Linked DNA regions of Homo sapiens. The protein of the gene in region 2 interacts with the protein of the main gene of each other region in a pairwise test. Each region holds a gene or a part of one and is shown on either strand. Other genes may lie near its edges.

Region 1 (7,303 bases), on a different chromosome or scaffold from region 2:
AGAAACTAAGATTGTTTTGCTCAGAATCAACCAGCTAGCTAACAGAATTAGTAATAAAAATCCTTATCTCTTGACCATTGGACCACAGTTTTTTGAGTTGGAATAAAAAATTATCTCAATTTTCTTTCCTCTCTTAAAATGACATTATCTTATTTTCCCAAGATTCCTGTTCCCTGAGATTGGCTGTAGTATAGAACAACACCCCTAATTACAATTTTGTATTGTTCCCCCAAAAGCAGGGATATGAAAAACCTTGCTGTTCATTTGCATCACTAATCATAAGAAAACAGAAAAGATTAATAACAAAAGTATCCACTGAGACAGATACACAGGTGTGAGATATATTACAATAATACAAACTCATATCTAGCCCACAGTCCTTTGACAACAAGTGTTTTAATGATCAGATCCCAAGGATTTAAATATTTGCAATTTGAACTCAAGAATCAAATCAGACTTTTTAATTTAAATAAATGTAGTAGTGTTTGTCACTAACCTGTGTTCCTGAACTATGAAATATGAATATGTAGGCTAAGGAATAGTTTCTCTTAATAAATAAAAAATTAGCAATTACTATGGACAAAACAAAACAAAATGAAATAAATAAGTGTATGGGAGAAGGAAACATAATGTGGCAGAAATTATAAGGAACTAGAGTTCGGGAAAAAAGTGAGATTTCAGTTTTTCTTTTGTTTTTGGGACACAGTCTCCCTCTGTCGCCCAGGCTGGAGTGCAGTGGTGCGATGTCAGCTCACCACAACCTCCGCCTCCTGGGTTCAAGCAATTCTCCTGCCTCAGCCTCCTGAATAGCTGGGATTACAGGCGTGCGCCACGATGCCAGGCTAATTTACTATGTATTTTTAGTAGAGATGGGGTTTCACCATGTTGGCCAGGCTGGTCTCGAACTCCTGACCTTGTGATCTCGCTGCCTTGGCTTCCCAAAGTGGTGGGATTACAGGTGTGAGCCACCGCACCCAGCCAAGATTTCAGTCTTTCTACTGTAAATAAGAGATTTCTTACTTCTGAATGTTTCCCAGTTATAATTATTTTTTCTCATTTGCTTTTTATCAGTTATTGATTGAGGTGGCATCTTGTGCTACGTTGCCCAGGCTAGAGTGCCATGGCTATTAACAGGTATAATCGTTGAGCATTACAGCCTCAAACTCCTGGGCTCTAAAGATCCTCCCATCTCAGCCTCCTGAGTAGCTGGGACTTTAGGCATGTGCCATTGTGCCAGCCTGCTTTGCATTTTGATTGCTATTTCTGAAGTGTTTGTGCTCCCGGAAAAATGTAATTAAAGGTATAACTTACACTATGTAAGTGCATAGACAAAAATGGGAATGCTATTTATTAATGGGAGGGATTCTTTATTTTTTTCCCCCAAGTTCATTATTGTGTTTTGTTTGTTTTTGAGACAGAGTCTCACTCTGTTGCTCAGGCTAGAGTGCAGTGACGTGATCACGGCTAACTGCAGCCTTAATCTCGTGGGCTTAAGTGATTCTCCTCCCACAACTTTCTAAGTAGCTGGGACTACAGGCACACACCACCGTGCCCAGCTAGTTTTTTTTTTAATTTTTAGTAGAGACGAGGTCTCACTATATTGCACAGGCTGGTCTCAAACTCCTGAGCTCAAGCAGTCCTCTCACCTTGGCATCCCAAAGTATGGGAATTGCAGGCATCAGCCACCACATCCAGCCCTGAGTTGATTATTGTTCTAATGCTGATGTTCAATAAATTTCAGAAATTAGCAGAGTAGTAAAGAAGTGTAAAACTTTTGTCATTTGTTTATTTAAACTCTCTTTGGCCTTAAAAAAAGGGGGCAAAACCTTTAACTTTTAACTTAAAAGAGGGGGCTGTCTTACTTGTTTGCATGTACATTTTGTGTTCACATTCTGTGTCTACTACTTAATTGTAAAATAATTAATAATTACTACTTAATTATAAAATAATTCCAACCTAACACGCTCACATGATTGATAAGAGAATACTAAAAAAAGTACTCAAAATAAATACATCTGAAGTCATACATAAACATGAGATCCTATTAATACAAACCCTTTCAGCTTTTCTTCTAGGAGTTTTAATTCTTCAGCTCTAGATTTTGCTTCCTCTTCCAATTGCTTGACCAGCCTTTCAGCTTGTTCCTCCTTTTGCTGTAATTTATCAAGCTCATCCAGTGTTTGCTTTAATTCTTCCTCAAACAGATTCTTCTCTTTAACCATTTCCTCTTGAAAAGAACAGAGCTTCTGATGAAGACTCGAAGATAATTCCTATATCCAAACAGAAAACCACCAAAATAATTTGGAATGGCATTGTGAGGTTGTACTAGGAGACAAAAAAAAGTACAGATAAAGAAGGATGAAACCTAAATTCAACAGATTCAAGGAAACTTAAAACAATATAGAAATAGCATATTTGTTTTCATAGATTATTTCCTATACCTTGTTAACATTGTGGCAAATATCATCTTAGGCTTTTTTCTATGCAACGCACATGCAGAAACTTCTTAATCTAAAATTATATTTTATATATATATATCTGTTTTACAACTGGCTTTGATATTAACATTATTTTTCACATATTATGTAAAAAGTGTGTGGTGATTTCCATATTACATAAAATTATTTTTTAAGCTATACAATATACAAATACATCACCATTGTGAAATAATTCTAACATTACAAATGATGTTAATATTATCTTTGACGACTTCCCCCCCTAATTTTAGTTTTCCCATTGCAGAGATAGCTACTAGTTTGGAATATATATGCCTTCTGGTATTTTTCTTTACACTTATATATACATATACATTTGGGGAGGGATATAAATGATATATACTCTGTTGCTGAAATCTTTCCAGGTCAGTGTATATAGATCTACTCAATTCCTTTAGCTGTTGTAGGTTGTCCAACACTATAATATTTCACATCAGTGCATGTAAGTACCTGTTGGCTTAACTCTCACCAGTATTTTGTGTTATCAAATGTTTTAATTTGTGCCAATTTTGTAAGTGAAAAAAATATTATTTCTACTTCCTTGGTTACTACTAAGGTGGAGTATCTTTCTATATTTACAGGCCAGAACTTCTCCTTCTCTGTTTCCATCCTATGCCCATAATTTTTCAGTGGACTTTCTTTCTTCTCACTGATATGTAAAATGTTCTATAAATAATCTGGATTTTAAAAATTGCTTTGTTTCTTCTGTAATTAGACAGTCTTTTACAAGGTAAGTGTAAATGTTTATATAGCCTAAATAACACAAGAATGAGCCAGAAAATTTTTTAAAAATTCCCTATTTTGCTGTATCTGTTGTCATTTTCCCACATTATTCATAACCCTAGGGTGAACATGTAGTGAAAATACGTAGCTAAATCCTCAGCATATCCATGATTATGTCCTCAGGATAAGACTCTAAAGATAGAATTGGTAGATCAAAGGATATACACAATTTAAAGGTGTTCAGAGACATAGGGAAATGTATGACACAAAATGAACAGTTTAAAAAAATATGGTGGTAAATTACTTTCTCTTGTTGCAGAAGTGAATCAATTTGTAATTCTTTTTGTTGAAGCTTTTCACGTTCCTGTTGTTCAAGAATAAACTTCTGTTTTAAGTTTTGCATCTCTGCATTTAGATTTTCGTTGTGTTCTCTATTCCTGTTGACATGGTCTTCTAGAAAACGCAAAACATCAAGAATACTGGAATTAGATAAGAACATTAAGACTGAGAAACCTGGACTCCCATAATATTCCATTACACTGCTTTTAGCATGGTATTTCCAAAGAAGAAAACAAAACTGTGAACTTTGTATCATTACTCCATGTAATATATACTATGTGCTAAATAATAAAACCCACAAATCTTGTTCTGTGTTATCTACTGATTGTTACACAGCCACCTAGTGGAAAAGTCAAGAATTATATGACTGTATATATTTCAATCAAGACAGGTAATATGCTGTATTGAAATAAACAGAAAACAAACATTATAAGAGTAAAATATTCTAAAATGCAGTACAGGTTTTTGCTGTTGTATAGCTATATAGCTAATTATATTTAAAATGTTAGTATAGCTAATTATATTTAAAAGGTTGTTTTAGCATAGTAGTATTTTTCCTAAATGTTGTATGTAACACTTATCTAAACAAAGTAACTATAAAACACTGTAATACCTTTTTCTTTTTCAAGCAGCTGACATTTCACATTTAGATCTTCTACTTGTTTAGATAATATAACAATATTCTCCTCAAGAGACTGCTTAAGGCTTAAAATTTCATCATTCTTCTCTTTCAAATTTTCTTCTAACTGGGCAATATCTAGCTTGTATTTTTCCACTTGATCTGAAGCACAACTGCATTAAAACAAATTATCTTAAAAAGCACATCTATTTAGGCACAGGGAAAATAACAGAAAAATGATGAAAATGACTGAGTATTAAAAAAATAAGGTTCAATTTAAAGCTACTGCTCATATTACCTAATTTCTTCGATGTATTCCAAGAGTTTTTCTGTTTCAGATTTTTCATCAATCTTTTCTTTCTCTATTGAAACACTAAAACAAAAATTGCATATGTTAATACATTCTAGTTTCGTTATTTAATAATCTTACATAATGCTTATGTACCAGATACTCCTGTATCAGGCAGGCTGACTACAGAGCCCTAACTCTTAACTATTATTTTATGTAATTTCTCAAATTCACAATTTACATCAAAATAGAAGACTAAAATTTTTATTTAAGTGAGAAAGTTTTCTGAATATATACTGACAAAAAAACCTATGATGACAAGAACCATCATTACAGTATCCCAAGTGTTAGAAATAATATTCTTTTTGTGGTCTTCCTGGTTTCCCCACCCATCCAACATACTAAATAGCATTTTGTGTGCCCATAAAGCTTTTGTCCCAGACTACCTGGTCTTCAATTACTTATCTGTTTACCTCCACCAAACTGTCCAATGCAAGAAATGGACAAAAGACTTCAATAGACACCTTGCAAAAGGTGATATGCACATAAAATGGTCAATAAGCACATAAAAATAAGGTCAACATTCATGGTAACAAATTAAAATCACAAAGGAGATACCACTTCCTACCTAGTAGAAAGGCTAAAATCAAACAGACTGACAACATTAAATGTTGGTGAGAATCTGGAACAACTGAAACTATCATACATTGCCAGGGGGTGTATAAAAATGGCAAAAACACTTCTGAGTTTTAAAAAACATTATATATACACTACCCTATTACCCAAGAATTCTACTCCTAGAAATTTCTCTGAGAAATAAAAACGTGTCCATAAAAAAACATAAAACATGTTCACAGCAGTCTTTTTAATGGCAGACACTGGCAACAGCCCAAATAATGATCAAAAGGAGAAGAGTAAAGAGATGGAGGTATATTCATAAGGTGAACCACTACTCAGAAATAAAATAGGAAAAATTACAGTATACAGAACGGTTTGGATGAATCTTGAAAAATTACATCAAACAAAAGAAGCAACACACACACATGCTCTTTCTCTTTTGCATGTCCTAAAAAAAGGCAAAACTGGCCAGGTATAGTGGCCCATGTCTATAACTCCAGCACTCTGAAGGCCAGGGTGGTATCACTTGAGTCCAGGAGTATGAGACCAGCCTGAGTAACAAAGCAATGCCCCATCTCTAAAAAAAAAAATAAATAATAATAATAATAAATAAAAAAAGGCAAAGCTAATTTATGATGATGTAAGTGAGAAAGTAGTTATGGGGATGGGGACATGACATAGGCAGTAGCAGGGGGACAAGAAGGGGTATGAAGGAACTTTCTGAAGGGATGAAAATGTTCTCTATCTTGTTTGGTAGTGGTTACGTAGGTGTATACAATTGCTAAAGTCACCAAACTGAATACTTACTATCCACACATTTTATTATATGTATATTAAAGCTCAAAATCAAAGGCTAGGATTGTGCATAAATCACAATTTCCTATACCAGTGTTTCTCAATTTCAATCTAATGACCACTTTCATAAGATCATGAAATCTTTCCTCATCATTAATAATACAGAAGATGTACAAAAGTAATGCACTCATACAACTTTGTAGCACAACATGTTTGAGAATGATTAGGGCTCATTCTAGTTTAAAAAGAGAAATAGGGCAACTGGAGGGAGGCAATGAGATAAGTACTAACAGAAGGTTGAAGTCTCAGTAAACAATAATTTGTGAAGAGACTCAAATCAAGAATTGCTTCCACTTAACAATTTCTCTTCACATTCACTCACTTACAGTTTTCCCTCCAGTTGGGCTATTTTCCCTTGAGACTCTTCGAGACTCCTTTGGGTGACCTGCAGCTTCATCTCCATGCCTTCTTGCTTAGCCATCATACCCTACACAACAAAGATACCTGTTTTAGGAAATGAGAAAGTTGTACTGATCCCCAGATCCAGACACAGCAAACCTGCCAAGGGCAGCACTCACCCTCATCTTTGTTTCTCTTTTGTTTCTAAGTTTCATCAACTCCAAGCTTAGAATTCTCAAATTCTTCTGGTTACCATTTTCAGAAAACTAAATACAACAAACACGTAAAAAATTCAGAAATATTTTCTGCTAAGACATATTTAAAATACACAAATATTGATTTTTCTACCTATCACTGGGGTTATGTTTTTGACTTTAATATACTTTGGTAGAGAGAACAGTCTTTGACCTACACCATAATTACTGATTGATTTAATTTTTTTTTCTTTTCTTTTTAAGAGATCAAGTCTCGCTCCGCTGTCCAGGCTAGAGTGGAGTGGCATGATCATAGCTCGCTATAATCTCAAACTCCTGGGCTCAATCAATCCTCCTGCCTCATCTTCCTGAGTAGCTGGGATTACCGGTGTGCACCACCACCATGCCTAGCTAATTTTTCAATTTGTTTATAGAGATGGGGTCTTGATATGTTGCCCAGGCTGGTCTCAAACTCCTGGCCTCAAGCAATTCTCCAGCCCTCAGCCTTCCAAAATGCTGGAAATACAGGCATGAGCCACTGTACCAGTCTACTGTTCTTATCCCTCTTTTCCTTAATGTGACTTGCTGGTTTATTTTTATTTTATTTTTGTAAGACAGAGTCTCACTCTGTCACCCAGGCTGGAGTGCCGTGTTGCTCACTGCAACTTCCACCTCCCGAGTTCAAGCTATTCTCATGCCTCAGCCTCCCGAGTTCAAGCTATTCTCATGCCTCAGCCTCCTGAGTAGCTGGAATTACGGGTGTACGCCACCATACCTGACTAATTTTTGTATTTTTAGTAAAGATGGGGTTTCGCCATGTTAGGCTAGGCTA
Region 2 (4,314 bases):
AGCTGAGTCTTTAGGGAAGAAGGTACAGTCTGTGTGAAGGCATAACATACATGATTAAGTGGTTACTGAGAGAGAGTTAACAGAATATGGAGATATTCTGACATAAGACAGAAAAAAATTACAAAGTACTGTCCTGGGCCGGGCATGGTGGCTCACGCCTGTAATCCCAGCACTTTGGGAGGCCGAGGCGGGTGGATCACAAGGTCAGGAGATCGAGACCATCCTGGCTAACACGGTGAAACCCTGTCTCTACTTAAAATACAAAAAAAATAATTAGCCGGGAATGATGGCGGGCGCCTGTAATCCCAGCTACTCGGGAGGCTGAGGCAGGAGAATGGCGTGAACCCAGGAGGCAGAGCTTACAGTGAGAAGAGATCGCACCACTGCACTCCAGCCTGGGCGACAGAGCGAGACTCCATCTCAAAAAAAAAAAGTTCCTGGACCCACCTCTCAAACTACCCATTTCCCAATAAGATGTGACCTCCAAAGGGGCTTAACAGATTTAAAAACATCAAATAACACAATCAGGGAGGGAAAGACAAAACGTATTTATTCCAGGCCAGGTCTTAAAATGCACACTGCACGGTTCCCTGTTGTTATCAGCACCAGTAAGGAAAGAACGTGCCTTAACGGCAGCCCCACCCAGAGCCTGCTGCGTGGCTGCTGTGAGGCTCCCCATGAATCCACGCAGTCTTCTTCCTCACTGGTGCAGTTGGTGAGGTTTTCTACCCTCACAGCAAAGGGATCCTTAACTATAAATTCACGGTATGCAGAGAAGAGGACAGAATCTGATTTACTGATTGTTCCTCATTTAAACCATGACTTAATCTCTATCTTAGGATTTAACTATCTTTATTTTCTGGTTAAAATTTTTAAAAAAAGTGGGGAGAGGGTGAGAGTCGTAAGGGGCAATAGCAATAGAGATTACACTGTGCTGACACAGAGACTAAATTCTAGTCAGAGTGAAGACCCATATAAAAGGCCGGCTGATGGTTTAAAGGAAGTAACTACATGGAGTCTAATCGAGACATTCATGAGTTACATCTCATTATTAGCCTTAGTAATGTAAGAAAACAATTCTCAACAAAACTGGAGTCCACAGTTGTCAAGTATGCTTTCTCAGGCACGGGTAGGTAAAAGTCTGGAGAAATGGGTTCTCTCCATGCCCAATGACAAAGCAAGACGGTCCTAGGTTTGAGGTTAAGAGCAGGTCCCATTGCCGGGCGGTATCCGCAGCTCACAGCTGAGTTTAGCAGTGGAATCGAGTGGAGAATTTGGGAGATACAGGCACAGTCAGAGGCTGGTCACTTGACTTTATCTCCAGACCCTGGTACTTGCGTATTGGATTTGCCTTATGCACCTGCAAAGTAAGGAAAAGTTACCAGTGAGAGGGATGTCAGAGAACTACGCTTATAATTGCTTTTATTTTTTTCTTTTTGAGAAAATGTTTGTAGAGTTTTACAGGTCCCAGTCACTAGTTTCAGGTGTGGGGAGTGGGGCCTGGGGGGCAACACGGTATGATGGAAAAGTGTATGTGCTTTGGAGCCCAAAAGGGTTTCTATTCAGGTCTCTATTGGGTCCCCCAGCTTTCCTTTAGGCCACAGTCTCCTCAAGTCCCTCAGCTTTCACTAAAGAATGCCAAACCTATGTCCTGTGTGATTTACTAGGGTATAATAGGGCTGTACTCAAGTATAGCAGAGAAGTTACAAGCTAAGAATTTCCCAGAGTACAGTCTTAAGTTTACTGACTATAAATATTCACCAAAAGCCTGAATCCTGGGGAAAAAGCAAAAACAAAACACAACAACCATACCAGGAAGGGTGGCTAAAGAAGGCATGGTCCCATCCATCCTTTAGGGTAGTCTAAAATCAATCCTAAATCAAGCCAGATTAGTAGAGAGTTAACCAGCATTGACTGAATTGTGCTTTACAATGTTGCCATCAGTTATGTTGAGAATTGCTGCAAGAAGCAGTTCTATAATGGGGACAAACACAAGAGGCAGGTACCAAATGCTAAAGAAAAATCAAAGTTGAGGCCGGGAAAAAAGGCTGATTGTATGAGTGTATATAGAGTGGGGATTATACTATTTTCTCATTCACTCAGCAAATGGTAGTCTAGATTTTACCAAGAGGCTGGTCTCCTAAATAGTGTGTCCGTGGAACCTTCCTATGGGCATAATCACCTATGCCAATAGCTGCCAATAGCTGTTTCAACTGCTAGTCTAGCATTTTATTTATTTATTTAAAATAGAGATGGGACTTTGCTATGTTGCCCACGCTTTTCTTGAACTCCTGGGCTCACGCAATCCTCCCACCTTGGCCTCCCAAAGTGTGAGGATTACAGGTGTGAGCTGCCACATCCAGCTGTAGTATAGCACTTTTAGACAAAACCTCAACAACTTACACTTCTTTTTTTTTTTTTTTTTTTTTTTTGAGACAGTCTCGCTCTGTCACCCCCAGGCTGGACTGCAGTGGCACAATCGGCTCACTGCAACCTGGGCCTCCCAGGTTCAAGCAATTCTCCTGCCTCAGCCTCCCGAGTAGCTGGGATTACAGGTGCGTGCCACCATGCCCGGCTAATTTTTGTATTTTTAGTAGAGACAGAGTTTCGCCATTTTGGCCAGGCTGGTCTCCAACTCCTGACCTCAAGTGATCCACCCACCTGGGCCTCCCATAGTGCTGGGATTACAGGTGTGAGCCACCATTCCTGGCCTTCTTTCTTTTTAATTGACAGATAACACTGTATATTTTTATTGTGTACCGCTGATGTTTTAAAGTAGACATACATTATGGAATGGTTACTATGTGAGATAATGCATTTGTTAATTAGCAAGATGCTAATTAACATTGTAGTGTGAGCACATAACATCCACTTATTGTAGTGTGAGCACATAACATCCACTTTCTTTACAGTTTTCAAGAATACAATATATCATTAACTACAGTCACCTTGTTATATGATAGATCTCTTGAAATTTACTCCTCCCATCTAACTGTAACTAAGTAACCTTTTACCAACATCTCCCCATGACCCTTTCTTTTTTTATTTATCATACGAAGTTCCATCTAAAACTGTCTGCTTCTTCATTAACACAGTTAACACAACTTGCTGCCCTCCTAGCAGATTGGTCCTTAATGTGGAGTTCAGGTTTCTTTTTGGATAACCAACATCTAAATAATTATGTTAGTAGAGGATTACCTGGAGCGACGAACACTGTAACTCCAAGGAGTTTGGGCTCAGTATTAAAACAAAAATACAGTTGCCATTTAATTCCCATGTCCTTCGCTATGTATTCTTGTCTAATTACAAAACTCAGTGGTGCTTCTTAACCCCAGAGGAAATAATAAGTTACATAAATAAAATAAACAAATAAATAAAAAACAGTCCTAGGAAAGGCATCATGGTTATACCACATGTTGTCCTCCTTATGAAAACTTCCGGAAGAAATTCTGTCTAAAAATTCACTATCAAAGGGATAAATGTATTTTTTGAACAACTGTCTTATGTCTCATGAACACTGCGAGTTTTGTAACTGACAGGTTGGTTCCTAAAAAGGGCCAAAATTACAGCTCCTACTTAGATCACAATGTACACATCGTTAGCTTCATTCACAACTCAACTTCATCACCACCCTCAGTTTGTGCAATTCCCCCTTTCACTCATTGTCTTTGGTACAGCCTTGCGGGCTACCTTAGATCCTGTCTGGTACAAGGTAAGGTACAGGTAAAATAAAACAGAGGCATGTTTGTGTTCGTCAGTGCTCATGCTCCCAGTTACCAGTTCTCTCCGTAGCCTGGCCAGCTCCTCTTTTTTCTGCTCTTCCTCCTGTAGTCTGGCCTCCTCCAACTGCTGGGCTTTCTGGGCTTCTACCTCAGCCATTCTCTTCTCCAGCTCCTGCCGCTCTTTGGCTCTCTTCTCAGTAGCCAGCTGAAAAGGTTCCTGAACTAGAGAACCAGAAAGGCCCTCTAAGTACAGAAACAGAAAAAATATTGGTGCACAAGCAGGACTTGCATAAACCTACGCCCCCTGGAATGAGCAAGTGGCACAGACATGCACACTAACAGGAAGACTGTGCTCTAAACAAGCCCCATTGGGAGAAAGGTAGAGCCAACTAAATACAAAAAGTTTTAGAATTTTAAGAGTTCAAAGGGCCCCTGGAAATCGTCTGGTGTAATTGGGAAAAAGGCAAAGACATAAAGTAGCTTGCACAAAACTATATAGTGATTGATTTTGAGGCAGACATAGAAGAAAGATCCCAATATTCTTTTTTTCCCTTTTTGGAAAGATTTTTTTGAAAAAGAGATGGGGTCTTGC

Evidence for each region.
Region 1: the proteins of TPX2 (region 2) and HMMR interact in binary tests that used the Homo sapiens proteins (3 or more experiments, as listed by UniProt).

The regions. Positions count from the first base shown.
Region 1 is NC_000005.10:163,470,425-163,477,727, reverse strand, and holds part of HMMR (hyaluronan mediated motility receptor), read right to left. Parts: intron 6,544-7,303; coding exon 6,457-6,543; intron 6,366-6,456; coding exon 6,265-6,365; intron 4,550-6,264; coding exon 4,475-4,549; intron 4,350-4,474; coding exon 4,171-4,349; intron 3,672-4,170; coding exon 3,523-3,671; intron 2,271-3,522; coding exon 2,056-2,270; intron 1-2,055. UniProt on the Homo sapiens protein: Receptor for hyaluronic acid (HA). Involved in cell motility. When hyaluronan binds to HMMR, the phosphorylation of a number of proteins, including PTK2/FAK1 occurs.
Region 2 is NC_000020.11:31,798,016-31,802,329, reverse strand, and holds the end of TPX2 (targeting protein for Xklp2), read right to left. Parts: intron 3,966-4,314; coding exon 3,778-3,965; intron 1,361-3,777; coding exon 1,250-1,360; 3' UTR 530-1,249; downstream 1-529. UniProt on the Homo sapiens protein: Spindle assembly factor required for normal assembly of mitotic spindles. Required for normal assembly of microtubules during apoptosis. Required for chromatin and/or kinetochore dependent microtubule nucleation.